Homo sapiens: one gene and its partners. The protein of the gene in region 3 purifies or fractionates together with the protein of the main gene of each other region. This does not show direct contact. Each region holds a gene or a part of one and is shown on either strand. Other genes may lie near its edges.

What was found.
Region 1: the proteins of DEPDC1B (region 3) and NES purify together in Homo sapiens (affinity purification with mass spectrometry; one large-scale study listed by BioGRID and IntAct). This does not show direct contact.
Region 2: the proteins of DEPDC1B (region 3) and CA2 purify together in Homo sapiens (affinity purification with mass spectrometry, with the first as the bait; one large-scale study listed by BioGRID). This does not show direct contact.
Region 4: the proteins of DEPDC1B (region 3) and CHCHD3 purify together in Homo sapiens (affinity purification with mass spectrometry, with the first as the bait; one large-scale study listed by BioGRID). This does not show direct contact.
Region 5: the proteins of DEPDC1B (region 3) and SMC4 purify together in Homo sapiens (affinity purification with mass spectrometry; one large-scale study listed by BioGRID and IntAct). This does not show direct contact.
Region 6: the proteins of DEPDC1B (region 3) and SFXN1 purify together in Homo sapiens (affinity purification with mass spectrometry, with the first as the bait; one large-scale study listed by BioGRID). This does not show direct contact.
Region 7: the proteins of DEPDC1B (region 3) and ZBTB21 purify together in Homo sapiens (affinity purification with mass spectrometry, with the first as the bait; one large-scale study listed by BioGRID). This does not show direct contact.

What each region holds. Positions count from the first base shown.
Region 1 is NC_000001.11:156,674,608-156,678,837, reverse strand, and holds the start of NES (nestin), read left to right. Parts: upstream 1-1,430; 5' UTR 1,431-1,573; coding exon 1,574-2,356; intron 2,357-3,497; coding exon 3,498-3,622; intron 3,623-4,230. UniProt on the Homo sapiens protein: Required for brain and eye development.
Region 2 is NC_000008.11:85,477,507-85,481,006, reverse strand, and holds part of CA2 (carbonic anhydrase 2), read right to left. Parts: intron 338-3,500; coding exon 218-337; 3' UTR 1-217. UniProt on the Homo sapiens protein: Catalyzes the reversible hydration of carbon dioxide. Can also hydrate cyanamide to urea. Stimulates the chloride-bicarbonate exchange activity of SLC26A6. Essential for bone resorption and osteoclast differentiation.
Region 3 is NC_000005.10:60,690,167-60,693,666, forward strand, and holds part of DEPDC1B (DEP domain-containing protein 1B), read right to left. Parts: intron 1-3,500.
Region 4 is NC_000007.14:132,792,091-132,795,590, forward strand, and holds part of CHCHD3 (MICOS complex subunit MIC19), read right to left. Parts: intron 1-3,500. UniProt on the Homo sapiens protein: Component of the MICOS complex, a large protein complex of the mitochondrial inner membrane that plays crucial roles in the maintenance of crista junctions, inner membrane architecture, and formation of contact sites to the outer membrane.
Region 5 is NC_000003.12:160,398,383-160,402,449, forward strand, and holds the start of SMC4 (structural maintenance of chromosomes protein 4), read left to right. Parts: upstream 1-1,267; 5' UTR 1,268-1,367; intron 1,368-2,176; exon of another isoform or gene 2,177-2,439; 5' UTR 2,440-2,444; coding exon 2,445-2,583; intron 2,584-3,532; coding exon 3,533-3,711; intron 3,712-4,067. UniProt on the Homo sapiens protein: Central component of the condensin complex, a complex required for conversion of interphase chromatin into mitotic-like condense chromosomes.
Region 6 is NC_000005.10:175,509,560-175,513,059, reverse strand, and holds part of SFXN1 (sideroflexin-1), read right to left. Parts: intron 2,952-3,500; coding exon 2,853-2,951; intron 1,610-2,852; coding exon 1,534-1,609; intron 950-1,533; coding exon 864-949; intron 1-863. UniProt on the Homo sapiens protein: Amino acid transporter importing serine, an essential substrate of the mitochondrial branch of the one-carbon pathway, into mitochondria.
Region 7 is NC_000021.9:41,986,361-41,989,860, forward strand, and holds the end of ZBTB21 (zinc finger and BTB domain-containing protein 21), read right to left. Parts: 3' UTR 471-3,500; downstream 1-470. UniProt on the Homo sapiens protein: Acts as a transcription repressor.

The DNA of each region.
Region 1 (4,230 bases), on a different chromosome or scaffold from region 3:
TTGACCCGGCTGTACCCTCTACTCAGAAAACCCTCTCCATCCTCTGTGCTGCCTGGCTCTGTCCCCAGCACCTTGGAGGCTGATTAAGTATTGTAGTCATCTTTTTATGTTTACCTCCACCAACAGACTATGAGTGCCCATCACTGTTGACCTCACATCACCAAACTATAAGCATTTCCAGGGCTGGGACAGAGTTCCTGCAATCTCTTTGGTGCTGACACATAGTAGGTACTCAATTAACACTTGAGCTAAATTGGATTTAGCAGCTTGATCAGAAACGCCTTCCCCAAAGATCCCCTCCGTCTCATTATCCCTGCATCTCCTCCCCAGCCCTACTTCTCCTTCACTGTAAATCCCCCAAATCCCACCTGTCCTTTACCTCCCAGCTCAAGGATGCACTCCGTCCAGAAAGCCTTCCCTACTACTCTCACCCTTGGTGAGCTCTCTACTTCATAAACTGTAGAATCTTTAAAAGGTTGTTTTGAAGATTAAGTCAGATCATGGAAGTAAAATATTGGAACACGACTGGGCACATCATAAAGGCTGGATAAACTTGGGCTAGTCGTTAGGAAGGAAAAGAATGGCCTCTTCCTGCTGCTTCCACTTCTGAAAGCCGCCAGAGGGCGTCCACTACCCAACATTCCCTGGCAGGGGGTGCGGGAGAAGGGGCCCTTCCCCAAGAACAGAACTTCCTAAAGCGGATGTTTGAACCTCGCAGTTATACAGAAGACTTGTAGGAAGGATGGACAAACGTTCTTAAGCCCATGACGGCCCTTAACCTGGTCGCTCCCTTTTCTGATGGAGACTCAGGCAATAGCGTGTGTGCGTGTGTGTGTGTGTGTGTGTGTGTGTGTGTATCCGTGTGTCCTAATATCAGACATTTGTTCTTGTTTTCCAGGCAGCGTCTCTCTAGCTTCTTTCTGCAATGCTGTAGTACTCTCTCCAGTATTTCAGGAGGAGGAGCATTTGCTATTTCAAAAACGAAAAACAAAAACCTGGCCACATCCATTTTTTTCAGCAGCCATGCGATTTCCATCATTGCTCACATTTTATGGATGAGGAAACTGAGTCTTAGAGGAATTCAGTAAGTGATACCTCTCTCGGATGTGTTGAGTAACTGAGACTGCACTCCCTCCCAGGCTGGAACGTCCTGGTACTCCCACCCCCACAGGCTCAGTTCTGTGCATTATCTGCCTTTTTCGGGGATTGTGACCCTTCTTCACAGCCTCCTCCCTCAGAAAGCCACCACCATCAGATCCGATTCTCCATGGTACAGCTTCTTCTTTGGTTCCACTCTCCAGCACCCTGGGGAAGCAGGAACAGAGGCTGCTGCCACTCTCTGACCTCTAAGGGGTTAAGGCCTGGGTCCCGCCCCTCTTCCCGCCCGCCTGGCGGGAGTATGAATAGCCTCGCTCCCACTCCCGACTCTCAGTCGCTCAGGCTACTCCCACCCCGCCCCGCCCCGTCATTGTCCCCGTCGGTCTCTTTTCTCTTCCGTCCTAAAAGCTCTGCGAGCCGCTCCCTTCTCCCGGTGCCCCGCGTCTGTCCATCCTCAGTGGGTCAGACGAGCAGGATGGAGGGCTGCATGGGGGAGGAGTCGTTTCAGATGTGGGAGCTCAATCGGCGCCTGGAGGCCTACCTGGCCCGGGTCAAGGCGCTGGAGGAGCAGAATGAGCTGCTCAGCGCGGAGCTCGGGGGGCTCCGGGCACAATCCGCGGACACCTCCTGGCGGGCGCATGCCGACGACGAGCTGGCGGCCCTGCGGGCCCTCGTTGACCAACGCTGGCGGGAGAAGCACGCGGCCGAGGTGGCGCGCGACAACCTGGCTGAAGAGCTGGAGGGCGTGGCAGGCCGATGCCAGCAGCTGCGGCTGGCCCGGGAGCGGACGACGGAGGAGGTAGCCCGCAACCGGCGCGCCGTCGAGGCAGAGAAATGCGCCCGGGCCTGGCTGAGTAGCCAGGTGGCAGAGCTGGAGCGCGAGCTAGAGGCTCTACGCGTGGCGCACGAGGAGGAGCGCGTCGGCCTGAACGCGCAGGCTGCCTGTGCCCCCCGCTGCCCCGCGCCGCCCCGCGGGCCTCCCGCGCCGGCCCCGGAGGTAGAGGAGCTGGCAAGGCGACTGGGCGAGGCGTGGCGCGGGGCAGTGCGCGGCTACCAGGAGCGCGTGGCACACATGGAGACGTCGCTGGGCCAGGCCCGCGAGCGGCTGGGCCGGGCGGTGCAGGGTGCCCGCGAGGGCCGCCTGGAGCTGCAGCAGCTCCAGGCTGAGCGCGGAGGCCTCCTGGAGCGCAGGGCAGCGTTGGAACAGAGGTTGGAGGGCCGCTGGCAGGAGCGGCTGCGGGCTACTGAAAAGTTCCAGGTGAGGAGGTTGAGGGCCTGGGTGAGAGAAAGTCCCAGAAAGCTCCAGAAAGTCCCTTATGAAGCTCAGAGACCTTCTGGGAAGGGAGTGGGGCTAGCTGGCTGCTGAATCAGGAGCCAGTTCTCAGAAACCTGGTGCCACAAGTCCTAGACTTTTACAGCCCGTCTAGTGTAGGATGCGAATGGTGGGGCTTCTCGAAGCACATCCCGGGTGGGCAGTCAGGCCCAAGACCCGTTGCAGCAGCCCCGCCACTCTCTGGATGGCACCTTCTGGCTCTGATGATGACCGGGGCTCCGGGTCCCTTCCCAGGCTCTGGTATTACTAGGAGGACACCCAGCACTGTCGCCTCTGCGCTGAATCTGGTGGCCTGGCCACTCAGAATCACCAAGTTCCTCACAGCCCTCCTTCTCCTGAGGGGAGGAGTGAGGGGCCGTGAATGAATGGCTACCAGCCCCCTCCCATGTCATGGCTTCTCGGCTCCCTGGAGCACATTCCAGAGGCCCATAACAGCTGCTCCTTCTCACAGGGCACAGATGTGACCAGCAGCTGAGAAAACAGCTTCTTGCCTGGGCCACACAGAGGTGCCATGGCCACCTCCCCATCCCTCCTCTCAGAGGAGACAGAATCCAGAACATGTGGGAAATGGGGGTGGGGCGGGGGTGAGAGCCTGCTGTGAGGAGCAGGAGACAGTTGTGGGAGATGGGACCAACGGGGGACGGGGGCTGTTTGCCTTCCAGTCCTGCAGGCTCCAGGCATCTTGATTAATCGTTTTTCCTTCTGCTTTCGCTTTTTTTTCCCCCTCTTCTCTCTCCATAACCCATCTCGTCTCCTCCCTCACCTCCCCTTCCTGTGGGAGCTGTGTTCTGAGCAACATGTGCTACCATTTAATCAGCATCCTCAGAGGAGGAGCAGGCCATGGGAGAGAGCTGAGAGTGCTGACAGGGGCCCTGGGCTCATCTTGGCTGATCCAGAGGGGGCTCTCTGGGCAGGGAATAGGGTAGGGGAGGCGGGGGTCTGCTACACAGATAAGTCAGCCAGGGAGCAGGAGGTGCTTCCCGGGCAGCGGCAGCGGGCAGGAGGCAGGTTGGTTCACAGAAGGGACCCCAGCCCCTCCACTGACTGCCTCTCGCCTGCCCTGCAGCTGGCTGTGGAGGCCCTGGAGCAGGAGAAACAGGGCCTACAGAGCCAGATCGCTCAGGTCCTGGAAGGTCGGCAGCAGCTGGCGCACCTCAAGATGTCCCTCAGCCTGGAGGTGGCCACGTACAGGTACGAGACGAGCCCTGTCCACCCAGGCACACAGAGGCACACACACATGCTGGGGCAGACTACGTGGCTGAAGGGGACCAGAGGTGTAGGTGATGGCAACTCTGCTGCCACTGGGTTCTGTGACTCTAGGCTGGTCACTTCCACACCGGAACATGTCCTGCCTGAAACCGTCTGCTCCCCCATAGGCTGGAGACCTGAGCAATGTCCTGTGCCCAGGAAATCCCCCCAGGAGAGATGATATTGCCGAGCGGGACAGCCTCTGGAGAGGGGCTGGGCCCGTGTGGGGCAACTGCATCCAGACCCTTCCCCCAAGGGGCAAAGCTCCAACTCTATGTGTGCCCGCACCCAGGGGGTCATGTCCTTTGGCAGCCACGGAAAGGAGGCATTGCAGGCATGGGGTGGCTGCACTGACTTGCCACCTGACCTGGGCCTCAGCCTCGTCTAGGGGCTGAGGGCTGGGCTGGGGGACTTCCAAGGCCTCTTCTAGCCTGGATGTCATGGGGCGAGACTCCTCTGATGCCCCTAGTGCCCTTGGTCCTGCCCAGCCTTTCATTGTCCACATTTTCTGTTATCCTAGAAATGGCTGAGACCAAGGAGGGGTGGCTTCT
Region 2 (3,500 bases), on a different chromosome or scaffold from region 3:
TACCATAAACAAAGCACCAACCAGCCACAGCAGTTGTGTCAAGCATGACAATTGGTCTAGTCTTCACATTTTATTAGTAAGTCTATCAAGTAAGAGATGAAGGGTCTAGAAAACTAGACACAAAGCAACCAGGGTCCAAATCACCAAGGTAGATCTGTGCTTAGCTAAAGGGAAACACCCGAAGATTCATTATTTGGATACAGACTATGGGACCATCTTATTTGAAGGAAGCTTTGATTTGCCTGTTCTTCAGTGGCTGAGCTGGGCGCCAGTTGTCCACCATCAGTTCTTCGGGTTCACCCTCCCCATTGAAGTTAAGTTTACGGAATTTCAACACCTAAAAGACACAATAAAACATTGATAATTAATGTTTCACAATGGTATTCAGTTATATACTTGTGTTATATCTTTAAATACATTCCCCGGCCAGGCGCAGTGGCTCATGCCTGTAATCCCAGCACTTTGTAAGGCTGAGGCATGAGGCGGGTGGATCACTTGAGGTCAGCAATTCGAGACCAGCCTGGCCAACATGGTGAAACCCTGTCTCTACAAAAAAAAAAACACACACACACACACACAAAAATTAAACAGGCGTGGTAGAGCACCTGTAATCTCAGCTACTCAGGAGGCTAAGGCACAAGAATCATTTAAACCCTGGAGGCAGAGATTGCAATGAGCTGAGATTGCGCCACTGCACTCCAGCCTAGGCGACAGAGCAAGGCTCTGCCTCAAAAAACAGAAACAAAAACAAACAAAAATTACATTCCACAACATTCAGTGCTGTGCATCAATGGCCAAAATTCAGTTTGATTCCTAATGAATACATAATCACATATAGATTATGTATGTATGCTTTAATATAACAAACCAATTTATACAAAATACACAAATTCGTTGGGGTCATTTTTAAGGGAAATTTTCAGTGACCTTCTAATTTAAAAATCTAACATCAAAAGTCTATAAACTCATACCTTTAGATGCAAAATAATAACAATTTTAGTTCCAAATTAAAGCTTTGTTTTCTGCCCCAGGGAAGACAAACTACCACATCCATACAATTAGATCAAGTGATCAGGACCTGTAAGCTCCATGGGCTGAGTGACGAGCTGGCATCTCCAAATACACAAAAACACGGAAATGAATTTGCCTAGGCTGATTTGCCTTAAGAAGCTCAATTTATCTCATGCTATGGATTTGCACTCAACCATTCTACTTTCCTGTTTTAAAAACAGCATTTTAGTGAACAATTGTGAGTGCTCACCACCCTACATAGCCCTACTGGCATTTTGCCAATATATGCATTTAACATTAGAACCCCTTGTCACTGGTTGATTTTTATTCCCTTATAAACTTGTTTCAGTTTACTGGCCACCACTGAGATACAGGCAGCTGTTGAACAGTCTCCCACTTCTTCAAGGTTCTCAAAAAGTGCTACTTTCCCCCCTCTAACCAAGACGTGATCCAAATGCAAAAGGGTGGTTTGGACAGTAATATAGCAGCCCATGAATCAACAGCCTTTAACCTGATCTCTTTTGTCCAGTAATAGTCCCTCAATCACCCCCGTAGAGCCACCTTCCATGCACATACATTATAACATGCACAGCTATGGTTACTGAATGCAAGGGAGCATTCTAAGGATATATAGGGTTGATTCGTTACAACAGAATTCCAGCAATCTGAAAGAGAGTCTGTTCATAAAGTGTAAACAGGTCAAACTTTTGATCAAACCAGTATAACCGATTTCTGCTACTCACTGCACCAATTAAACTACACTGTCACATTAGTCAACTTGACTCATTGTTTTAGCATCACAGAGACAGAGCCTGGGTATAGAAAATAAAGGTAGCAGAATTAGCAGACCCATTTATACTGCTTACCTAAAATCCACGCCCCCCCATACTTCCTCATTAACAGACATCCGCCCTCTCCCTGTAAGCCTCAGTGGGGTAAACCTGCAGGTCTTAACTGACTGTGATGATCACATTCCCGGGCTAGGGACTGAGCAAGAAACACAATTCTAGCCAGTGAGAAGTGAAAGGTTTTCTAGGGGCCTTCAGGAAAGAGCTTCTCTGCTCTTAGGAAGCCAATGGAAGAGGTATTCATTTCCTCCTCAAGAAGTGGTTATATCTAGATGTGATGCTCAAAATGCTATTACAACCACCTTGAGGATGAAGTCACCAATTGGCAAGGCCAAGTCAAGGGACTCAGATAGAGGAGGACCTGCAGCCCTAGCTTCCTGAGCTGAGCATGATCCTTCCTCCAGATTCCATGTTATAGGACAAAAAAAAGAGCCCTATTGGTATTTTGCCAATATATACAATTAACATCATTAGTTTAATACCACTTTCAACTTTAAAGAGCAAACTCAGGGTACAGGGATTAATGCAGTAGGTTCAACTGCCCTTATCTATATGTGTATTTCTGCCTGTGGGTGTGTATACACCATAAATCCATTTGTTATAATGGCTCTAAATGTCAGACTATTGCTTTAAAGTTGCATTGCTCTCAGTGAAAGAAGAAAAAAAAATTCATGTTTTAAATTATAATGTAAACACTGCATCTACAAAAAGAAGGGCATTATAATCTTTCCTTACGCTACACTTCAAGAAGCTTACTCAAATATGTTATTACTACAAGGTCAATCTTCAAGTGACATACCAAGCATGCTATTTTTTAGGCCCACTTTGATATGCTACAAGTAATTTTCCAGTCAGATACATATTTCCTTTAAAGAAAGATATGAAGTATCTTCAGCATTCATAAGTTCATATTCTAAGGGAGGACACAGGAATAGAATCCTTGCTCCCAGGCCTGATTCTGTTGCAAGGTAGCTGAGTGGAAAACACTTCAATTTTCCTGCATCTCAGACTGTTGATCAATGTGATTCAAGCCAGTGAAATGAGAAAGTTGGACAACATGATCTCTATTGCACATTGCAGCTCTAAACCTCTATTATTCAGCATTTTTGTAGGTTTAAATCACACTACCACTACTCACATAGTTACCATTTTCAAGACTGTTGGCTCCTAAAGCTATCCTTAAATTATTCAGGATCCATCCTCTTGTGAATCCTAAGGAATGTTCACTTTCTACATTTCAACTGTGCGCTAAGAGGTAAGTCTAGGAAAAACTCATTTGTATCCACTTTAGTGGCTGCTCATCAGTGACTTAGAAGCTGCACTAATCACTTGACGATCACACACTATATTTTATTGGAAATGTAAGAATACCTGCTCTAAGCCTCTAAAGCAACCTGGAGTGAGTTTTAATAGATACATGTTCTCCAAGGGATGACTCTCATCTGTCAGGATTCAGAAATGCATTCTGATATAAATAAAATAGCAGAAAGCCCTTATGTGAGTGAGTAGTAGGCTGGTAACTCACTGATACCTGCGTAACCTTGAATATGAACTCTCACTTTTCTAAGCCTTAGTTTCCTCATAACTGGCAAAAAAAAAAAAAGGCATTTATTAGGTGACAGACATCTTTCTCATTGAATC
Region 3 (3,500 bases):
ATAAACATAAGTATATTTATGCTTTATAATCAGAGAAAAATTAGAACTAATTTGCCATTTTATAATCAGAGAAAAACTAGAACTAATTTGAATAAAATTGACTGAAGCGTGGAATAGCCACAAAACAAAATACTATCAATAGTTCCAGACAGAAATAGATACCATAAATATAACAAAGTGGAAGAAAAACGTACAAAACACTATATATAATCTGATCCTATCTGCTTTGGTATATGCATATGAAAAGCTAAATGAATATACAACAAACTTAAAAATAAAGGAAAGTCATCTCTTTTGAAGAAGGAATATAAGGCAACTTTTATTGTGTAACATATTTCTAATTTCTTTCTACATAATTATTTCAACATCTTTTTAGGAACGTAGGCTCCCTGCCAGTCCTCCTAAAGTCCTTAAAATTCATAGTCATATTCTCATTTTCTCTTACTCTTCTCTTTCAAGTCTGTCACTTTATAAACTCCGAATCTTTTGTCTCTCACCTCTCTTCCTATTTAAATCAGATTTTTCTGACGTCATCTTTTTCTTTAAACTGTATTTCTGATCTCAGAGTTGTTTTTTGTTTGTTTTGCTTGTTTGTTTGTTTTTGCCCAACCTTGGGTCATGTTTTCCCTTCTAATCATGACTTTTCTTCCAGATTTCTCTTCATACTCTCTGCTGCCCAACCACCTGAGAAACTATTATCCTATTTCTCTTTTATTTTTGATGGCTAACCTTCTCAGCCACATTCATAATTCCTGAGCATACAACAGCAGGAGCTTGAGGGACAGAAGTGGGGTTTGTGTATGCATGTACCCCGGATGTGTAGCACAGTGTGTGACCCACACTAGGTAGTCAATAAGCAAGTGCTTAATCGATCTTTCACTTTTTCTACTTTTTTTTTTTTTTTTGAGACGGAGTCTCACCGTATAGTCCAGGCTGGAGTGCAATGGCATGATCTCAGCTTAATGCAACCTCCGCCTCCCGGGTTCAAGCGATTCTCCTGCCTCAGTCTCCCAAGTAGCTGGGGTTACAGGCATGCGCCACCACACCCAGCTTATTTTTATATTTTTAGTAGAGATGAGGTTTCACCATGTTAGTCAGGCTAGTCTTGAACTCCTGACCTCAGGTAATGCACCCACCTCAGCCTCCCAAAGTGCTGGGATTACAGGCATGAGCCACCACACCCAGCACTTTTTCTACTTTTTTTAACCAACTTCTCAACCTCAAGAAATTTAATCCCACTAATTGCTAGTCATGTCTTCCTCCTGGCCAAACTGAAATAGCTTTTTATTCTTACGTTAATCTTTCTACTTCTTTTGACACTGTTGTGAGTCATGCTCCAAATTAAGTTAGTCCAAATTTAAAATCTTTTTTAACTTAAAAACACACAGAAACAAGGCAAGCCACTGAGTAGGATAAGATATATCTATCATTTCCAAACAAAACAAAAAAAATCAATAAGAAAAAGACATTCCAATTACAAAATGAAAAAAAAATTTAAACAGGTATATCATAAAAAAAAAGATCTTCAAATGTCCTATAACATATACAAAGATGTTAAACCTCATTAATTATCAGTGCAATGTAAAAGAACTCGACAAGTCAATATCACAACATGGCTGTCAGAATAACTAAAATGAAAGACAGGTGGATCTACTGATCCCACTTTTGGGTATTTGCCCAAAACATTTCAAGTCAAGATGTCAAAGAGATGTCTGCACTCCCATGTCATTTACTATTTACAAGAGCTAAGTTATGGAATCAACCTAAAAGTCCATCAACAGATAAATGAATAAAGAAAATGTGGTATACATATACAATATAATACTATTCAGCCTTTAAAAAAAGAAAGAAATGTTGTCATTTGCAACGACATGGATGGAAGTGGAGAACATTATACCAAGTGAAATAAGCCAGGAACAGAAAAACAAATAATGCCTATTCTCATTTATACGTGGAATCTAAAACAATTGAGTTCAAAGAGGCAAAAAGCAGAATGGTGGTAACCAGAGGCTGAGGGGAGTGGGGAACGGGGAGATAATGGTCAAAAGGTACAAAGCCTCAACTAGACAGGAAATTATCTTTTTTATTTGAGATATCTTGACATCATGGTGAAGATATTAATAATAATGTACTTTCAAAATCTGAGAGTAAATTGCAAGTGTACAACAAAAAAATGTTAAGTATTTGAGGTGATGGATATGGTAATTAGCTTGATTTAATTATTCCATTGAATTCGTAAATCATAACATCATTTTGTACCCTATGAATATATACAACTATAATTTGTCAGTTTACAACTTACAAAACTAAAATTTTTTTTAGAGACCTAAAAAATAAGAAAAAAGGTAGGCAACACTAAGTGCTGGTAAGAATGTGAAAGAACTAGAAATCTCATACACTGCTGTAAGGAATGTAAATTGGTGCGACCAGTTTGGAAAACAGATTGGCAATATCTACAAAAGCTAAATATCTGAACACCTTATAACTCAGCAATTCTACTCCTAAGCATATACCCAACAGAAATCCATATATATGCTCCCCAAAAGACACATTGTTCATAATGGCACTATCCATAATAGGCAGAAACAACCCAAATGTCCATCAACATAATAAGTTATAATATATTCACCAATAGAATGCAGTGAAAATGAACGAACTATTGCTACATGCCATAACATAAATGAATCTCAGAAAATAATATTGAGATGAACAGGCCACATATGAAAAGTAAATACTATATGATTCCATTTACTTGAAGCTCAAAAGCAGGCCAAACGATCCATGATATTTAAAATAATGATAGCAGTTACCTTCATAAGGAGGTAGGGACCAAGTGGGGGAAAGGAGACTTCTGCGGTGCTAGTAATATGATATTCCTTGATCTGAATGTTGGTTACATGGGATGCTCACTTTATGAAAATTTGTTGAGTTGTACACTTTTTATACAACTCAACAAATTTTTTGAGCATTTTTCTGTACATTATGCCTAATTAACACCTAAAAACAAAAACACATACATACACATATGCACATGTTCACATACTAAAATTATTACCCACATGAAAGTTGGCAAATATGAACTGGTTGGTTGGGGTGGTAAACTGGATGTGGAAGAGAGTAGGGAGGTTGGAGAAGAAACCAAGTGAGTGGATGAAGGAGGGAAAGTATGTAAACAGGAAAAGCAGAGCAAAGGCTAAATAATGAATAGTAGAAAGGAAGCCCATAAAGAGTCCAAGAACGCTGATTTAACTTCTCTACCTATCCACCCACTTTACAAGGTTATTGTAAGATCAAATGAGATCATGACTATAAAAGTCCTTTGTTAAAAATGCGTTCCTCAAATTTAAGGATAATATATAAAATGTCCAGGATATCTCTTAAATTATAAGGTTCAATCTATTCTAGAGCTGGAAAAAATCTTTGGGACAAAATCAAGACCTTAGCAGGATACACAACTTAGCAAATGTCATTCAGGTACTTAGTCTGTGAATAAGATCTGG
Region 4 (3,500 bases), on a different chromosome or scaffold from region 3:
ACCTCTGTCCCTTGGGCATCTCCTGGGGTTGGTCCTTGCCTCTGGTCCCAGTTTGCCCTTGGTTGTCAGGCTCCAGGTTCCTGGCTTCCTGCTCTGTTTTCAGAGTCACACTTCCCATGGTACTTCACAGGATGAAAGGCATCACGATCCAGGGGAGGCTTACGGCTGGCTGGAGGGAGCCTGCATTTTCTAATGGCCTTTATTAGCCGGCAGGGTACATTCTGCCAGCCAGTGCAGAGACAGCTGTTTTTCACTTCACTGACTTTGGAGAAACTGTGAAACTGTTTCTATTCCCTCCCAGTTCTTTCTGCCACCTTGGCTTCCCCAGGGCTGTCAGGAGTGTGAACCTCAAAGAAAGGGTACGTAGCAGTGGGAGGCCAGGCAGCAGCAGACCAATCAGAAATGCAAGTGTTCTTCTTGAGTGAACGTTTAAGGTGGACAGCAAAATTTAAGAGGCGAAGGCACAAATACTGGAGGTCTCAAAAGGAGAGGTGCTGCTTGTACCAAATAGGCCATGTCTCTTCATCTGAGTGCGCCTATGAACAGGCATGCTTATGCACACCATCTTTTGCTCTATATACTTCAAAGCAGAATCAGTCCTAGAATAACAGAGCTAGATGGCCCTCATGGATCACCTGGTTCAAACCTTCAGTTTATCAAAGCAACTGAAGCTCAAGTCACTATAATTAGATTAGGATTGCAGCAGCAGTATTTCCTATAAACCCCACCCTCCCAGTGAACACAAAATGTGCCAGAAGGGTCCAGCCAGCTTCTGCATTTTTCTGTCAATAGCAGCAGGGCTGGGAAAAAGCTGAAATGCTTAGACTAGCAACTCCCAATGCAGCCCAATTCTACAAGTAAATAGTAGAGAGGTGGTATGTCCCAGGGAATGGTCCCAGACGTAATGCAGATCTGACAGCAAACCCTTTCGACACCCTTCCCCTTTTTTAAAAAACAGAACTTGGGCACATTTTGGTCTACCCATGAGCAAATACTATTGGCTTCTCATTCCCGCTCCTTTCCATTTCTCCTGTAAGGTAGGTGGTGTGCATAAGCATGCCTGTTCATAGGCACGCTCAGAGGAAGAGACATGACCTATTTGGTACAAGCAGCACCTCTCCTACCTTAGGTAGGTGTAGCAAGATAGAATGGGAACCAGGTATCAAAGGTAAGAAGAGGTAATCCAATCTTGCTGAGCTTGAGAAAGTTATGAGGCTAAGCAGATATGAGAAACAAAAGACACAGGACTATGTATCAATCGATGTGCTCCTTCCTTTGTAAATGCTGTATCTCATACAGCCAGCCAGCTGGTAGCTTTTAAGTCTTAGAAATAATAATTAGAGCTATTTAATATCTCTTTACCCTCATGAAGAGCACATAAGTTAATACACAAGAAATAATAGCCTAAATGTCTCATGTCAACCCATGAGAAATTGTTGAAGAACAGCTGAAGAAACACTGATATGAATAAGTGGATAAATAAGCAGAGAGGAAGAGTAAGGCTAAGGAATATCCGGAAATTTTCCTAACAGTAAAACCTATTAGTCTCTAGAACAATGCCCCAGGGAACCCGTGAAAGGCCAATCTTATGAGTTATTTAAAAGTGGAGTGGACTTAGCCATTGGAATTATTCCATGGGGGAAACCCTTGCACTGTGTCGGATATGGACAACACTGCCTAATGGCTTGTTGTCATGTATAGTATTTTCCATGTTTAGCATGTCCAGCTTGTTCTCTGGATTTAACAGGAAACATAAGAAGAAAATGTAAGAAGTTGGCCCATGAGGAACTGCTAAAATAGGCAGTCGGGACTACGTATCTTGCCGGAGTCTCTTAACAGGGGCACAGCTGGGGTCATGAGGTTAGCCTAAATTCACAAGGAGCAAAAGGACAACCTGGTATTGGAAGGAAAGTAACTGCTCATGAAACACTGATAGAAGCTCCTTCTGGCCACTGTGGCGTGATCTTAAAATGGGCCAGTGCCAAGTTGCCCCTTTCATCACGGGCTTCATCAACCCACTCCCCATGTGTGACCTTCAGACTCTGTCCCCCGCTCATTAGATCTTCCACATTCTGTGTCCTCCCTTTATCGCTTTCGCTCTCACTTTCCCTTACTGCCTTATTTCTGCATTAGTGGATGATGGATGGATGCCCCTTCACAAACTTACCCACTCAAAAACCAAATGCCACTTATGTATTTTGAAATTTTTTGTTTTTATGGCAAGGTACATCTTGGTCTAGCTGTTAAATTCACTATTGTGACTTCCCTGAGTTTCAATGCTCTCAACTGGAAAATGGTGAAAATAAAACCATCTCTATTTACATCTCAGGTTGTCATAAAAAAACAAGTAAAAGAATGGATGTGAAATGACCTTGCAATCCTAACTACTGCCGAAATGTAAGGTGGTGCAGGTTCTTGGTTCTCGTCCATTTCAATGTTGCCCATCTCAGGAAAAAAGGTTTGAGGGCTTCTATCTTTTTATTATTAACTTGTATTATACACCTCCTAATAACTGAATATAAGAGCCACGAAAACAATAGATACTCCAAACATACTAGCTGAACATAAAAGATTGGAGAGTGAGGGGGAAAAAAGAGGGTCTCTTTTGAAATCATTAATAATAATTTGATGCTTTTGGCTGACCTGTTTAGTAAATTTCAGCACAATAATGCAACTGAGGAAAGAAGGGGAAAAATAAGATTTACTGAATACTTTATATAAAGGTAATCCTCACAACATTACCCCAATTTACAGATGAGAAAACTCAAGCCCCAAGGTCACAGAGCTGGTAAAAGGACAGGGTACAAACCCAGGTCTGCCAGATTCAAACTCACTATCGCGCCATGTGGCGTATTTGCTTTTGTCACAAGTTAACTTTGCTTTATCCTATAAATATATACCATTGATGTCACAAGACTATATGTAGATAATTCAACACAACCCAGACAGGCAGGATGGGGTCAGCACTCCCAATGCCCCTGCAGCTGCCACTGTGGTAATGTTACAAATCACATGGTACAAACAGGCACGTATGTTAGAGACCAGCATTGAAACATACACTTTGTCACAACCACTCTTTTCCACTGACCACCAGCTCAATAAGGCACTATTATCAAGTTAGAAAAATCCATGAATCAACCTACGAGTCTCAAGTCCTTCAGTTCATATTCATATTGAAGGCTGGGGTTTATTAACAGCATATCAGAAGCTGTTTTCGACAAATAAAACGTACTAACTTAACATTAGCAACATTACCTGTACCAAAGACCTTTAATGAAAAGGATCCCTGGCATACTACTAAGAGTTATACAAGTGCAGCTACAAGCAAGAAACAGAAAAAAGCTGCCAGCCACTAGGCTTTTGAGGACAACATAGGCTTTTAATAAATCTTGATTATATTCTTTCCACTAATGTTACTTTATTTTCCAGCTATCCAGATAATACTAACCCTCCCGTCGGATATTTGTAGAGTATAAAAATTTTACACCAAGTGATATTAT
Region 5 (4,067 bases), on a different chromosome or scaffold from region 3:
AAGTAAGCAAAAGTTAAAGAAAAAAAAAGGAGGCTAGTAGTTCTCAATGTCAAGTACTTAAGAGTTGTTGCATGAATACTGGAGATAGTCAAATGAGCCAGTGGCTCTTTAACAATATAGGGAATTAGGAGCAAGTATGAGATTCTGATTATAAAGTTGTAGGAAAACTAACTTCCCAGAAAAATGCACATAGAATTATGTATACAATGTCAGGCGAGTTATGAACTCTGAAGCCCAATCACCTACCACCAGATCCACAGACCTCAGGTTAAAAACCCACTAAAACTAAGTTCTCGGGGAACAGGAATCGCCAAACTTGCTTACTAATTCTAATTATGCCTTACCCAGGGCAATGTATACAAACACTACTTAGGGAATATTTGCTGATCGATAATTTCCTCATAAAAATAACCATAACACTGGCGAGTCGTTTTTTCCACTAAAGAGCCTTTTAGTCAAATTATTTTAAAAGTCCTAAACCTTTCACTAGTAACACCAATGATCTCGAAAATCATTATTGCGCTATTCACATGTCGACTAAGCTATCACGAATCCAGGTCTTCCAGTTGTCTCTCTACTCCCTTAAAATTTAGGGCTTCCTCCTTCGCATCCCAAAAGCTACACCCGGAGCCCCGCTGCCGCCAGGGAGACAGAAAATGATGCTCCACGAAGCACACAGCTTCAAAACAGGAAAGATGGGATCCAGTGATGGCTACAACTTCCAAACCCTTTTCTCACCAGGTCCAGAGGTGAAGGGATTTACCTCAAGTTCCAGGAAAGCGGTGGCGATTGCTCTCAAATACCTGGTACCTCCCCGTCACCATAGTGACTTCTAAGAGTTACGCTCCCTTCCTCTTCCCGCGATACTTCTACGCGGCACGTCATCCGAGTGGGCCCGAGACCCCGCCTCTCGGCGAGCCCGCCCTCTTCTGAAGAGGCGTTTCTGGACCACTGAGCCCCGCCTCCCACTGTGAGCGGAACCCTACCGTTTTTAAAAAAATCTTTTTCAAAACTTGCCAGGTTGTCTTTCCAAATATTTTTAATAATAGTGCTGCTGCTGTAGACCACAGAGAAAAGAATCCCTCGCTCTTCCTTTTCACTTAGTAGAAACTTCTACCGCGTAGGTCCCGCCAGGAGTTCGCGCATGCGCAGGAGCGACAATAAGATGGCGGTGATAATCGCCGCACTTTTTTTCAAATTAGTGGATCCCAGAAATCATTGCGCGCATTTGTAACGAATTTCCGTTCGAGTTTGTATTTTAGGCGCCATTTTCGAGTGAAGGACCCGGAGCCGAAACACCGGTAGGAGCGGGGAGGTGGGTACTACACAACCGTCTCCAGCCTTGGTCTGAGTGGACTGTCCTGCAGGTAAAGTACTTCTCTTCCTGGTCAGGTTGTCACGCTCTTACTTCCTGCCTTGTCCGCGAGCGCCTGGAAAATAGAGGCCTTGAGCCCGAGCGGCGAAGTCCGGGCTTGAAGCTGCCGCTGGGAGATTTCTCTTGCTGTCACCCCTCCCCCCTCGGCCGCTCCCCGGCGGCCCGGGCTCCCGCGCGCAGCTCCCGGGCGCCACTTTTCCAAGCTACTCAAATGTCTCGGGGAGGCCCTGAGCCTCGCAGATCTTTTCTTTAAAAAATCCTAGTCTCTATCTGGAAAAGGGCGTCTCCCCCTACCCCTCTTCCTTCTGCCAACGGACTAGTCACCGGGTCTCAGCCTTCGCTGGTGACCTTTCATGGTTTACTGTCCAACGGGACTCCGCCTGGGGAGCTGGAGAGACAAACTCTTGCCACTCCAAAATTAGCAAGCGCTGCCAGCGTCCGACTTGAAGTTGCTAGTGGTTAGTCCCAGCCTTCGCCCTTCGCGGTCCGACCGCTGAGAGGAGGGAGACTTCGTTATGCCCCGGGCCGTCAACGGCGCCAGGAGCTAAAGGGCGGGCAGACGAAAGCGGGCGGCGAGTCGCCAGTTAGTCTTCACCGCTCTGGAGAGAGTTGCTAGCCACGGGATCCTGACCCGGACACGAACTCGTTTCTCCACGTCGGTGCGCGCTTGCATCCCTGGCCCCGAAAGCGTGGGAATGTCCGGAAATGCTGGCGTATGGGAGTTCCTTAATTAGAAATGCGTTAGCGAATATTATACGCTTATACTATGGGCGGACGGGTGGAGAGCCTTAAAAACAACAACAACAAACTAAGCAGTTGCTCAATCGTTGATTGATCCTCAGGCACGTCTAGATTTTCCCACTTACATAGGTCTTGTTAAGAAACCAGTCCTGCCTTCTTGCCACTCGTGTCTTTCGATGGCTCCCTTCCCGAAGTCCCGCTGCCTCTAAGCGGAGTGTTAAGCGGGGCTCTCGGAAGCCGGTGGACCGAGATTTCCCCGGGTGGGGCGGGCGCGGTGTAGCGGCCCGCGGGCTGACTTGCTCCCGGCTGTCCCCCGGCCCCAGCGACCATGCCCCGTAAAGGCACCCAGCCCTCCACTGCCCGGCGCAGAGAGGAAGGGCCGCCGCCGCCGTCCCCTGACGGCGCCAGCAGCGACGCGGAGCCTGAGCCGCCGTCCGGCCGCACGGAGAGCCCAGCCACCGCCGCAGGTGAGTGACCCGCCGCGACTCGGCGGGAACGCGCGCTGTGGGACTGGCAGGCAAACGCGCCCAGCCCGAGGCTGGCTGGGGTTGTTGAGCGCGGAGTTGACATCTGAAGGTCCGGTGTCGGTCCGGTAGAGGCTCAGGAAAGCCATTTGGCAACTTTGAGATAGGATTCCCGTGCAATTTTGGTGTAACGGCGCTGGAAGGGATGGGGGCGAGCAAACGGGTTCAGTTGTGAATTTTTGTTTGTGACCTGTGGAATGGTACAGGTCACAAACAAAAATTCAATATCTTTATTGTATTCCCGCTAAAATCGAGACGGTCAATCAAGAGAGCAAGTGGACTTTTTTCCCAGAGACAATCAATATGACTATGTGAGCATGATGAAAAGTTTTTTGACCCTAACCTCACCTCCGTGGTGTTAGATTGCCGTTAAAGAGAAGACGATAATTTATTTGAAGCCACTGTAGCTTTTGTGAGTCCAGGAGTTGGGTGACATTATTAAACCCTCGTGGCAGTGTCGCTGAAGTTCATGAGTTTCCAAAATGAAGGTTCCAGGTGCTCAGCGGTACGGAGAATTGCATCTAGAGCCTTAGGATTTAACCTCCTGTTTAGGATAGGCAGCAGGAAATAGCTTGTTACGGTTTTCCCAGATTTGCTCTATGATGTAGTGTTTTGACTCTTAAGAGGTATAGGTGTATAGAATTTTGTGACCGGTGGCATTTCTTTCAAGAATTTCTTTTTTAGTAAAACCAAGCTGAAGGTTTAGTCACCCCCGTGAGTTTAAGATAATAACATATTTAAGTGGAAAATATAGACTCCTAAGTTTCATAAATAACATCCCTCCATCCCCTACTTTAAAGATGGGCAGTCATTAGTTCTCCGAACTAATTGCACTAATGTAGGCTTTTCCCCCGCCGTTTGCCTTCGTTTTCCTTTCCTTTCACTGACTTAGAGACTGCAAGTGAGGAACTTGATAATAGAAGTTTAGAAGAGATTTTGAACAGCATTCCTCCTCCCCCGCCTCCAGCAATGACCAATGAAGCTGGAGCTCCTCGGCTTATGATAACTCATATTGTAAACCAGAACTTCAAATCCTATGCTGGGGAGAAAATTCTGGGACCTTTCCATAAGGTATTTGTATGGAAATAACTATTTTATAACTTTTTAAATAACTATTGTAAGGTAATACGTTTTTACAAGATGTTTCAGTTTTGTAACTATCCTAAAATTCATTCACTCCCTATTTATCCTGATAGTCTTTCTGTCTCTCTCTCTCACACACACACACACACGTTTCATATGATTTTAACACTGAAATTATCTTTTGTTTATCTGGTTATCTTTGGTACCTCTAGTTACAAAGTTTTCCATTGAATGGAGTCGGTGTGTGTTTCTGTTTGAAAGAGTATTTTCCCTTGGATAATTTTTTTTTCTTAAAGCCTTCTATGGAACCCTTAGATAATTTAACTATAAAATGAGTTTTCTAA
Region 6 (3,500 bases), about 110 Mb from region 3:
CAAAGTGCTGAGATTACAGGTGTGAGCCACTGCGCCCAGCAGACACATCTATTTTTAAATACCATGGATAAGTTTAATCCTCCTTTGATAGAAATAAAAGTAAAACAACACTAGTAAACTTTTAAAACAGGGTGTACCTTTTTCAGGAACAATATGATTCAAAGGGTGGACACACTAACTTCAATCTATGCTCATGTGCAAATTTGAGCAACTTTCCAAATGAGAAACAGATATAATACACAGCATTATTAAGTCAACAAACTTAATATGCTGACATGGAAACAGTCACTCGCACATGGCCCTACTGTATATTTATTAACTATATTTACTAACACTAAGTATAACTTCTACCGTTACCCCTGTTTTTCGTTATCCATTCCAAAATGCTTTTGTTGTTCTTTCTTCTCCTTTAATTTTTGCCAGTTCTACAACAATACTTCCAAAGATATAGAATAATGTACTTTAAGCCCCAAAAGAAAATTCTGGAGAAAAAAAAGGAATCTATTTTAGAGAATAAACTTTCTTTGGATAGACTTTGTCCAACCCAAGCACAACTCAATGTAAGCTTGAGATATATCTTTTAAACTTTTTATTATACGGACATAGAAAGACTATTCCAGCATCAGCCCCCTCCCCGCACTCCTCAGTCTGCTTCAATAATCAGTAACTCATCGCTAAGCTTGTTTTCTCAAGACGCCCATCCTCATCCCCAACCCCAGAGTATTTCAAAAGAAATCCAAGATCTCATATAATTTCACCTATACATATTAAAACAAGCATTTGAAAGTTTCAACAAAGCTAATTATTACAAGAGACTCTCCTGTCAAGCACATGTCCCTACTAAGAGTGCATATTCGTCTTACCTTTGCCTCATTAATGGAATATTAATGCAATTAGCAGCAGCTACGGCAGCAAAGGGAACAAAACGTCCTATCAGTGGTGAGACATGCTGCAGAGGAGAAAATTTCAAGAGCTTTATCTTATTTTTCCTGTACTAGTAAATGGAAATAACTTATTTCTTCTTGAAAACTCTGAAAAATGCAGAGTCCCATTTGCATAGAAACTCAGGCCAAGAATGCTTTCAAAACTTTTCCTAGCAGTATTTGTATATTTCCCACATGGGTGTGCTGGGACCATGCAAGCTTCTAAGGCCTTGTAGCTAAGTGTGGTTGCAGGAGTATGGGCTTTGGAGTGGGGAGAGAGAGAGAGAGAGAGAGATGCTCTTGCCTCTCTTCAGAGCTGTGGCCTGAGGCACACTGCCCTCTGCAATGCCTCTGGTGGGCTGTCAGGATGGGTGAACATTTAGCACTTCGTACACAGAGTCAGGCACAGACCACAGTCCTGGTAGGTGTTACTGGTGACAACTCTTCCCAAACTTATTGGAAGATATAACTAAAATATGCAGCTGAAGATAAGCACTATAACAAGAAAGCCATATGACTTGAACTAGTTTAAGAAATAATAGAGGGATTTAGAGCCAGGCAGGTGATAACAAATTAAACAGCTTTATTATGGAAATAAAAATCTGAGTACCTTGGTCAATGCATTGAGTCCTAGAGCTGTTGCTACGGCACCAGTTGTTGCAGAAACGTAAGCTGTTCCCAACTCACTGAAAAGAAAAAAGGATATCGTGTGGACGACGAGGGCATGTCAGGAAACTCTGGTGCAACATTATTTGAAGAAATAAAAGGGAAATATAAAAGAGCATGATTCAGAATGAAGAGTCTACAAAACAACATTCACTATCACTCCACAAGTAGGGGAATCTAGAGAAAAAGCAAGCAGATCCATAAACAATGGGATTCTTCACACGTATCTTGACTATAACTCCAAAAAAGTAGACATGTATTCTTTGAAGTGAGTTGGTTAAAATAAATAAATAAACATACAGACTTTGTATTCGTGAGAAGGAGGGGAGCTGTGTGTAGGAAGCTATGAATACAGGGGAATGCATATTGGGCTAAATGTTTGGGGCATATTTGCTTAAAAATATTTCTCAAAATATTAATATACACACTGAAAGCAAAAATGAAGTGCTGCCATTTAAAAAATGATATCTTAACTGTATAAAAATACTAAGTCTTATCATCCAAAAACTATAAAGCCCAAGCAATTCTCTCTTCTTTTAAAAGAAATTTTAATTGCAATAAACACCACTTGGCTGCAGATTTCAAGATCCTTTGTTCCATATAACAATAGTAGAAGAATATGTGTTGTCAAAAGCAATTTTAAGTGATAAAAAAGAGAAGCACTTTTCTTTCAAGTGTAATACAATTATGCTAACTAACGTTTTTGGTTAACTAATCTTGTGAGCCTATTTTTTTTTTAACAGGTGACAAAAAATTAAAACTCATTGCTTTCTTTTGGACTCCACAGATGAGCTATTTTAAAAACATATCAGATATAAAGTTCACACCGCCATGGTCTCCCCTTGATTTCTGCAGAGACCACACTTTGTCTCCTCTACTCTTAACGTTGGTGTCTGTCAACTCAGGCAGGGTAGATGGCGGAACAGCCTGTCACTTATCAGAGGCCAGGCCGGTGCTGCCTGCCATGTGTTCTACAGGGCCATGAGCTCCAGGGTGAGAAGGAGGTAACATCCTACCAGTACCTCCAAAGGCACGAGTAATGTCTGAGAAGGCAGGCTGGAAGAAGACTGTTTTCTTGATAGGGAGAGAGAAAATGAAACACTTTACTTTAAAAAAGAAAAAAGCTACAAAAAAGGATGCTACATAATATTCTGAACAATATAAAAATATGCACACATAGGCTTTTTTAAACAGGAGAGTATCACCACTTAATAAAATGAAGGTTGAAGAACTGCAGAGAGTGGTCAATTCTCGTAGCCTTACTTGACAGTGAGGGGTGCGTCTCCACTTCTGTTGGTGTAATTGACGACGGCATTGAAGGACTGGTTAATCCACTGCCAGAACAGCACAGCCGGCGTAGTCCTAAAACAGAGGCATCCGTCACATACCCACCATCACTGGGCCCAGCCGCGGCATGGAACAGAAAACGTGAACACCAGTAACCAGAGAGGAGACGTACTGGGGAAGGGAGAAAGCCATAAGGCCACACAGGCTTAGGATCTGTGTGCTGGGCAAGCTTTTATCCTCTGGGATCATCAGTTTCCTCATTCCGTAGATATAGATAACACCAAGCTCAGAGGGTTACTATGAGGATGAAGTAAGATAAAATTTGTAGAGAGCCTGGTACAGAATAGACATTCAATAAATGCCAGATCCCTTCTCTTGGGGAAAAAAGATACAATTTGTAGGCTAAGCGGTCCTGGGCCCTCCTAACAGCACTTGCAATGCTATATGTCTATGTCTACACATACACCTTTAATGTGCCTATATCTACACTTATACCTATACCTATATCTATATGAATGGAGTCAAAGGAGAATTTGCCTGCAGACTCTTTATTTTCCTTCTCCACTTCATTCTCTTTTGGGGCTAAGATTTAGAAAAAAAATTCAACCTCCTTTTGAACAACTA
Region 7 (3,500 bases), on a different chromosome or scaffold from region 3:
ACGTTACAGGGAGAGCTAATAAAATTTTTAAAAATGATATACCCCGGTTTTACAGAAAAACCTCATTAGAATGAAAAAAAAAAGCTATGACATTAAATTCTTTAGATTATCAAATAAAACTGGTTTATCAACTGCTATGCAGAAATATCAATGCAGGGTACTTAAAAATGTTATTTTTCTGCATTTACCCCCCTGCCCCATCAACTTAAAAACTACCAGTTCGAATAGTAAAGGAAATGGCAGATGAGCAAAGATGGTTGCCTATCTGGTTTTAATCATCGTATTTGCGATGCCCAAATAACTAAAGCTTTAATACAACCTTAATTCTATAAGCAACCTGGAACGGGGGAAAATTAAATCTCTCACAGCTATTCACATTACCCAAATAGGAAGATTTTAACTTTACTTTCACAAATGTAAATGCTACACCCGGTTACTATCAAAGTACAGGGCATACCATTGAGACTGACTCGAAGCAAAATACAGTACAAATTTATTGACTCCAATCATTCTTAGTCAACATTTAAGCAAACTGTAGACAATGGAATTGAATACAAATAAGCAATGGATTAACATTAGATAGAAATCCTATTTTACCATGAATTTTCAGTTCGAAAAAGCTTATTCCTAAGTAAAATGGAAAAATGACTTACTCTGCTAAGGCATATGACAAAATACACAGAATTATAAAACCATTCGTTTTTCTTTTAACCATAAGCATATATTCAATGGAAAACTTGAAATAGCCTTGGACTAATGTTCTGAAAACTAGTATTAACTGAGTATAACTGTGTGAAAAATCTGGACAGCATTAACAAATGAAAGAGCACTGAATTCTGTTATTTTAAAGATTTACAGTAAAATACTTTGGTTCCCAAAAGACTGTCTCTAAAAGGAATTTTTAAAAACACCTGACATTGTAACTCATTTTTTCTCCTCCAGAATCTAAACACCAATTTTGTCTTCTCCCCAGTCACATGGGAATGCCACAAGCTGGAGTACCCGCTGAGATACACTGAAAGAGCATATTAAAAATTACAAAAAATTAAACTTCTTAAAGTGCTAAAACCACAAAAAGCCATAAATGAAAACCTATTTTTTAAAACTTAAAGTTTAGTAGTCAGTGTTAAAGAACACTTTTAAAGAGTACGTGTCAGCATTATTTAAATCAATAATGCATTTCACAATTATTGCAGAAACATCACTGAGACATCGTAAATTGTCAAACTGACTTGTAATCCAGTTAGATACAATTTATACAGAAATCTATTTGGAATTATACCTAATTACTTTTTACTAAGAAACTTCAAATAATTTTACTTCCTGAAGTTCCAGATTACAGTTGTATACACACATGCATGCATGTGTGTACAAACCCAATTTGAGACAACAAAGGCCAACTTTAGATCTGTTAATTCTTCCATCTCTCCCTCACCCTGATCAGAGAGTTGGCCTTGTAGGTGCATCCACACCGCACCTCCGTGAACAGACACATTTTATTCCTGTTTCACAGCAGCTACTCTCATTAGCACCAATGGGACTACATATGGATTCAAACGGTCACTCATTAAGTGCTGGGGCACATTTTTACAGGCAAGGCTATAAACGTTCCATTCCAAACCAGAAAACCAAGAACATCACACATCTCCCCACAAATGCAAAGAACATCACTGTTGAATTGTTAGTTGTATATTCTGGTAAAATTATAAATGCATACTAACTAGTTTTAAAGGTGAATATTCTACAAATCTTCAAATATTACTGTTAAAATGCACAATATTTGTTACCTCCATTGCTTACTTTGAGTGATAAAAACATGTTTTATGTTACTCCTTCCTTCTCCCACATAAACGATTCAGTATCAAGTTCTCAGATTAACAAAGAATATATTAAAACATTTTACATTCTTTCCACAACTGCATAAAAAAGCAGGCATCCTGCATACTTACATGGAATAAAGAGCTTTCTACATTTTCAAAATTAATTACAATCCTAAAATATATTTACATGAATATCTTCACTAGCTAATGAGTTGCAACAATTTAAGACCAACTTGTTTTACACCAAGTATTTGCCTACTGGCTGAGATAAACATTCTTAAAAAACTTTACTGAATAAAGTAATTAACATATCTTTCATTATTTTACTTCTTAACATTTAAAATAGTTACATGAGTGGAAGCATATTTTTTTTGACCACCAAAATAAACTCTTTCAGCCTAATGCTTTTAAAGTACAGTATAAAAAGTAATAGAAAAACCAGAACGGCATTATAAATGTTTTTGGTTCAAAATTTTATTTGAAATCTTATATTCCTTGCTTAGACAAAAATGTGAAGACAAAACACCAGTCATTTTTAAAATCTAACAGATATGCAGAACCTATGTTTAGATCAAAAATATTTTTTTTTTTTACTGATTAACAATATTATTTTTAAAAAATCTTCGAAAATGTAGCATAAAGGTTTAGGTCCTGGGATACTGAATTTATAATGCCAAGATACTCTGTATCATGGAATTATCACCGATAGATACTCTAATGGCCATGTAGGTGATGATTACTCAGGGAAACTGTCTTCTTTTGAAGTGACAGCTACCAAGATGGACAGAGTAAGAAATACCACATTATACGCGGAATGAATTCAATGTACAATAATCCATCCTGATGTTTCATGTAAACCCATATGCTTTAGTTTTATCCTTAAAATGCATAGATTTCTTTAAGAAAACAAAGATGGCAAGAATCAATAACTGCAATTTATTTTCCCTTCTCCATCAAATTTAAGAAAGAATAGGAAGTTAACTACTAAAATATTGTGGAATTTTGGAGTTTTTTCAAGTGAAAGAATACAAGGCAAAATTTCATATATAATATCCATAATGTACAAAGTCAATCAGTATTTTATAAAAATGTCTGGTTCAATAAAAAAAATGAGAATATCTTTCCTACCACTGGTATGGAATGTTGGCAATAAGATTGATGGGTACAGAGTTATTTTCTGCTAGAGCACAAATCTAAAATTATTTCTTAATGACAGTAGTTGGCTTTTAAAAAAAATTTGAAAGAATACCTCGTAACACAAACTAGAGTCTAAATTGGTATTACTTTCTTAAAAGGATTTTGTAGTTTCGTTTTTTTAATACATCTAACTCCCACCCCCACAAGTAAAAGTTTTCCCTTTTGAAACACATTGAACTTTGGATATCCTACTGAAAGGCTTTCAATTACAAATTATACATAGTATTCTTTGAAAAGCCCAAAACCCATGGAGCAAAATAAGTAGCTAAAACTAATTTTGGACCACTGATAGTGCTCTAATACCTATTTTTGAAATATTAAGCAATGATGTAGAGAATGGCCTTGCCCATGATTTTAACCATCAGACCCCCAACAAATTCTAACAGAAATTGTCACAAGAGAGAGGCAGGAAAATGTATATGTCGTATATATTGTTCTTGGAAAGCATGTTGAAACTGCAGTGAGGTGTTTCTCCTCTGCTCT